2 separate regions of the Homo sapiens genome follow, and region 2 is reported to be linked to region 1. Evidence: microRNA targets listed by miRTarBase, many of them from high-throughput screens and not tested one by one. Region 1 holds a microRNA gene; the other region holds the end of a gene's coding sequence.
What was found. Region 1 holds the annotated microRNA hsa-miR-7-5p (UGGAAGACUAGUGAUUUUGUUGUU, at 894-917, shown strand). A microRNA usually pairs through its seed, bases 2 to 8, with sites in the 3' UTR of a target mRNA and lowers its output. Matches are read on the target gene's strand: a 7mer-m8 pairs with bases 2 to 8, a 7mer-A1 pairs with bases 2 to 7 and ends in A, and an 8mer does both.

Region 1 (3,202 bases):
GGGTGGTCTGAGGTGCCTGGCATTTCTGGAGACCTGCACCTCATGTAATGGATTTTTAAACAAAGTATTTTCCAGATAAGCACACACAGAAGTCTGCAATTTTCTTTTTTTTTCGAGACGGAGTCTTGCTCTGTCGCCCAGGCTGGAGTGCAGTGGCACGATCTCGGCTCACTGCAACCTCTGCCTCCTGGGTTCAAGGGATTCTCCTGCCTCAGCCTCCCGAGTATCTGGGATTACAGGCACATGCCACCACTCCCGGCTAATTTTTGTATTCTTAGTAGAGACGGGGTTTCACCATGTTGGCCAGGCTGGTCTCAAACTCTTGACCTCTTCATCCGTCCACCTCAGCCTCCCAAAGTGCTAGGATTACAGGCGTGAGTCACTGCGCCTGGCCCAAGTCCGGAATTTTCAACAGGTAAGATACCTCACTGGGGTAACAGCTGCCTGCTAAGATGACATTATGGTGTCTCTTCCAGACTTCGGTGAGAAACCTTGTGCCAAGCATTTTACATACATCATATCATGCCATCTTCAACCCTAGGACATGGGTGTTACTGTGCCCATGTGACATTTGGGGAACCCAAGGCCCTGAGAAAGGCAGAAAAATAACCCACGCAGGGACTCTCAGCCCACAAGTGAAGCTGTAAGTCAACCCCACCAGTCCAACTCCAAATCCCATGTCTCTGACGTGCCTGGGTGGGAGGTGGGCCCTTGGAGATCAGACCCTGCTTCTCTCCAGGAGAACCGGGAATGGAAAACAGGGAGGCAGCACAGAGGCAGGAAACTCAGGTGTCATAGCTTGGCTCAGGTGAGAAGGAGGAGCTGGGCAGGGGTCTCAGACATGGGGCAGAGGGTGGTGAAGAAGATTAGAGTGGCTGTGGTCTAGTGCTGTGTGGAAGACTAGTGATTTTGTTGTTCTGATGTACTACGACAACAAGTCACAGCCGGCCTCATAGCGCAGACTCCCTTCGACCTTCGCCTTCAATGGGCTGGCCAGTGGGGGAGAACCGGGGAGGTCGGGGAAGAATCGCTTCCACTCGGAGTGGGGGGGCTGGCTCACTCCAGGCGATACAGGCACAGGCAAAGGAGGGAAGCAAACAAGGACATACATCCTGTGCTCATACAGCCATGCACCATGTATGGGGTTTGTCACATCACTCGTACGCCCCCACAAGCCTGGAGATAGAACATACCTGACTCTAAACCCAAGACCTCTAACCACCTTATGGCGCTTTCCTGGGAGACCCAATGAGGGAATGACATTTAAAGCCCTCCCTAGACCAGAGTTCTCAGGGTACTTTTCTATTAAAAAAAAAATTATTATTTTTTTGGCCGGGTGGCTCACGCCTGTCATCCCAGCACTTTGGGAGGCCAAGGCAGGTGGACCACTTGAGGCCAGGAGTTCAAGACCAGCCTGGACAACATGGTGAAACTCCATTTCTCCTAAAAATACAAAAATTAGCTGGGCGTTGTGGCACACACCTGTAGTCCCAGCTACTCGGGAGGCTGAGGCATGGGAATCCCTTGAACCCAGGAGGCAGAGGCTGCATGACCCAAGATTGCACCACTGCACTCCAGCCTGGGCAACAGAGAGAGATTCTGTCTCAAAAAACATTTTTTTTTTCTTTTTTGTAAAGACATGGTCTCCTGCCTCAGCCTCTCAAAGTGCCAAGATTACAGGTGTGAGCCACCGAACCCAGCCTAAGGATACTTTTCAATAAAAGTTCCAGAAGTGGGCTGGGTGTGGGAGCTCATACCTGTAATCCTAACATTTTGGGAGGATGAGATGGGAGGATTGCTTGAGTACAGGAGTTTGAGACCAGCCTGGGCAATATAGTGAGACCCCGTGAGTTGACACATGCCTGTAGTCCCAACTACTTAGGAGGTGGGAGGAACACTTGAGCCTGGGAGATCAAGGCTGCAGTGAGCCATGACTGCACCACTGCACTCCAGACTGGGCAACAGAACAACACCCTGTTTCAAAAAAAAAGTTTCAGAAAAGATTCCTTTCCTGTCTGCTACCCATCAGTGTCATGGGCCAATCATAGGACAAGTGTGAACTTGTGCCCAGTGGTGACTTATGACATCATAAAGGCTCACCACCTTTGCCAGACATGGTGGCTCACACTTGTAATCCCAGCACTTTGGGAGGCCAAGGTGGGAGGATAGCTTGAGCTCAGGAGTTCGAGACCAGCCTGGGCAACATAGCAAGACCTCATCTCAGTAAAAAATAATAAATAAATAAATAAATATATAAGACTCACTCCCAATTCTCTGCAACACCCTAATCAAGTGAAAAACTGCACATGGTTACCTGTTCTCCAGCCTCAGGGCTTTTGCCTCTGCTGTTCCTGCAGCTTGGAATGCACTCCCTCCACCTCCAACCAGAGCTCCCCACAACTGACCCTGCCTTCTTCTGCAAGCTCCATTTCATCAAGGGAAACGATCCTTATTGCCTCACCATTTCCCACGTGAAGTCTGTATTGACATTCTCATAGACCTGGGATATTGTGTCTGCAGCACATAGTCCAATTATTTTCATGTTATCTACTGACAGGTCTATTTGTCTCCCTGTTACACTGTGAGCTCCGTGAGGGCAGAAACAATGTTAGTATTTTCACTGCTGTGTCCCCAGCGCCTGGTCCGGGGCCCGGCACACAGCAGGCATATAATAAGCATGTGTTGAATCAATAAAGGCATCAAAGAATAAACCAATACATCAATCAATAAATGAATGAATGGCCTCAGCACACACAGGAAGATCCTTCTTCTAGGTCTCCCCCAGAGAGATACTGGAGGGCAATGGTTGCTGGAGGTGTTTATTGGGGAAGCATAATTGAATTTGTGGACACTTAAGGGCCGGCCAGCCAACTCACAGCCCCAAGAGAGAGAGCCAGGCTCATTTAATTAGCAATTACAAGGCACTGATTCCTCATTAGCTCTGGCAACCCTCGTCTCCCTCCTCAGCCCCAGACAAATGAAATCTTTCTCTCTCTCCCAGGAGTACTGCCTCAGTGGGTCCATTAACAAGCAGAGAAAATGAGATTAGAAGACACCTAAATGCCAGAGGCACTTTATGAATGGGCTGAGCAGAGGGAGGTTCAATGTCTGGGTTAGGTCTAATTGTGGGAGGTTTCCTGGTCTATTTAGAATTGCCCCCTGGGAATGCAAGGTCTTTCAGAAAGGAAAAGGCACACAGATA
Region 2 (3,103 bases), not on the chromosome of region 1:
CCCAAAGTGCTGGGATTACAGGCATGAGCCACCTCACCAGGCTAACAAGATTGTTTTTAAAAGAATGTACTAATAAAGTATCTAGTTTTTTTGTTTCTTTGTATTACTTTATCAGTGGCATTCTGGGTTACCAAACTGTAGTAGGATTGCACAAGTTTTTTAGTTGGTTTTGTTTTAACTTTAAGGACTTGCACATTTCATTTTACATTTAATTCTGTTTTTTGAGAAATGATTAAAGTGATCTACCTCCAAAATGTTTAACAATCCGATATGCTTCTAAGTATCCTGCCAATGTACTTAATCAAATGTACTTAAAAATCAGTTTTCTTAAAGAAGCATACACTGTAATTCACCTGGAAAAATAGCATTTTTAAGTAAAATTAGGCAATTAGCCTAAAAATATGATTTGCCTCTATTCTGGAAAATAATTCATTTAATTCAGATTATGGAAAAGTCTTAAATTTGTATAGCATTCATGCAATTTAATAACAAAGAAGTGAGTTTCCTTATCAAAACAATCTGAGTAGAATCAGATTGAGACTGAGTGGAAACATCATCTCTAAAAAATATACAGGCCGGGCACGGTGGCTCATGTCTGTAATCCCAGAATTTTGGGAGGCCAAGGTGGGTGGGTCACCTGAAGTTGGGAGTTTGAGACCAGCCTGACCAACATGGAGAAACCCTGTCTCTACTAAAAATACAAAATTAGCTGGGCATGGTGGCGCATGCCTGTAATCCCAGGTACTCGGGAGGCTGAGGCAGGAGAATCGCTTCAACACGGGAGGCGGAGGTTGCGGTGAGCCGAGATAGCGCCATTGCACTCCAGCCTGGGCAACAAGAGTGAAACTCCATCTAAAAAAAAAAAAAATTCCAGGTTATACTATATCCTGATCTATATCCTTAGACCATTTTTAATCCTTAGACCATTTTTAATGTTTTTCCTTTTTGGTGAGACTAGGAATTTCAGAAAACTAGGTTTTCTGTTAATTCTTTTTTTCTCCACCTTAAGTAGAGTGATTAGAGACTACGTTTTCAAGTGAAAATCTAAGGTGTTGCTTTTGCTGTTTTAAGAAAGCTTCTGCACTGGGTGCAGTGGCTCACGCCTGCAATCCTAACACTTTGGGAGCCTAGGCAGGAGGATTGCTTGAGCTCAGTTCAAGACCAGCCTGGGCAACATAGGGAGACCCTGTCTCTACAAAAAATTAAAAAATTAGCTTGGCATAGTGGTGCACAACTGTAGTCCCAGCTACTCAGGAGGCTGAGGTGGGAGAATTGCTTGAGCCCAGGAGGTCGAGGCTGCAGTGAGCCATGACCACACCACTACACTCTGGCCTGAGCAAGAGTGAGACCCTGCGTTTAAACAAAACAAAACAAAAACAAAAACACACCAAAGCTAAAAGCTTCTCTGTGATTTAAAAGATGTAGAACTAGACCAGCCTGTCCAACATGGTGAAATGCCACCTCTACTAAAAATACACACCAAAAAATTAGTTGGGCATGGTGGCACGTGCCTATAATCCCAGCTACTCTAGAGATGCTGAGGCAGGAGAATCGCTTGAACTCGGGAGGTGGAGGTTGCGGTGAGCCAAGATCGTGCCACTGCACTCCAGCCTAGGCGACAGAATGAAACTCCATCTCAAAAAAAAAGATGTAGAACTAGATAGGCCTGCTCATTAGAATATCAAGATGGCTCCAGCTTGACTTTTCTTTCCTAATTTATATGTACTAGTGGCTTTATTTTAAATAGTTTCCTTTGAAAATAATCATTTTGACCAGCTATTATGTGTTTGGTGGTAAGGGACAAGTTGTTATCTGTACCATGCCAAATATCCTAATAAAAACTGGAAAACATGTCCAACTTACCTTTGAATGTGGCTTTCCCTCATGACACTGCTCCCTACTGACTTTAGAGCCATAGATCCTTTTAGCTCATATAATTGGGTTATACCATGTGAAATAAGTTTGGACATGCCTTTCCCAGTGGTAACTCCTGTGAAAACTCAATGGAACTACCTTTTCTTTTCAGATACTCACAGATACGAGGTTTTCCGCTTGAAGTGGGAGAATATGTGCATTCTTTTCAATGATCACAAGACTCTAACAAAGGGGATTTTTAATCTTTAATTTTCAAGATGGTTAAAATATTGAAATGTTTAAGTGGATAACTATATTATTCATAAAATGACTGAGTGAAAACTAATATACTATGAGATGAAAAGTACTTGTCAGGGATTTTCAAGCTTTTGCTCAAGTAATTACCATGAAGTAACAATTTCTAGAAATGAAGAACAATCTGTGAAGATAAATTACCATTGGTGTGGGGAAAAAAAGCCAAACAGAAGTAGAAAAAGGTGTAGCTGGCATACAAATGTTATCTACAGTGTATTTATATATATATATTTTTAAAACTTTTAACTAAAAAGTAAACTTTAATGTCGAAAATGCAAACTTGGGGAAGACAGAAAAGATCACACACAAGGCTGTCACTTCACACGTGGAAGGTTGCACAGCGGCCGGGCAGAGGCGCTTGTCACACTTCCCAGATGGTCAGGCGGCCAGGCAGAGGCGCTCCTCACTTCCCAGACGGGGCAGCAGCTGGGCAGAGGTGCTCCTCACTTCCCAGACTTTTATATTTTTTATACTTGACCAGGTCTCTTATGTCCTTTTTCTGGAAAACTACTTTTAACTACTAAAGTGATTATAAATGAAAAAGTGGCCAATAAAGTGACTACTATCCTCAGGGCTTTAAACCAGTTGGGATAATGTGGTAAGAGAAAAAGTTCAAGGTGGAATGCTACTCCCATACCCATTATTACTGTGACTATGGCTTCACTAAGTCTTTCAGAAATAAGGAAGGCAAACCATGAAAAGAAAAGAGGAGCTGCACTGCTAGCTAAATTAAGGTAGTCTGGTTTGGCTGGACTACCTTCTGGTAGAGCAAAACCCCATCTGATCCCACCCAAGAAAGATAGGAAACTGGCTCCATAAGCCATCTGAGTAAAAGCTAATATGGGAATATAAGTTTTTGTCATCAGCATGACCAGTGGTGGAGCAACGAAGGGGATTAGTCCTGCCAGAGTTACACATAATGCTGGCTTTGGGC

Region 2: miRTarBase lists TMEM69 as a target of hsa-miR-7-5p. Seed matches in the 3' UTR shown: 7mer-m8 at 2,454-2,460.

Annotation. Positions count from the first base shown.
Region 1 is chr19:4,769,807-4,773,008 of GRCh38, forward strand. It overlaps MIR7-3 (microRNA 7-3), which reads left to right and starts at 864; the gene lies at 864-973. MIR7-3HG (MIR7-3 host gene) reads left to right here. Exons shown (of 3, transcript NR_027148.1): 3 at 2,358-2,750. RefSeq lists a silencer at 1-25.
Region 2 is chr1:45,693,439-45,696,541 of GRCh38, reverse strand. TMEM69 (transmembrane protein 69) reads right to left here. Exons shown (of 3, transcript NM_016486.4): 3 at 2,106-3,103. The coding sequence ends at 2,637. It also overlaps a transcript of IPP not described here. Among named protein-coding and RNA genes, the nearest start is that of TMEM69, 6.8 kb to the right of the region's middle.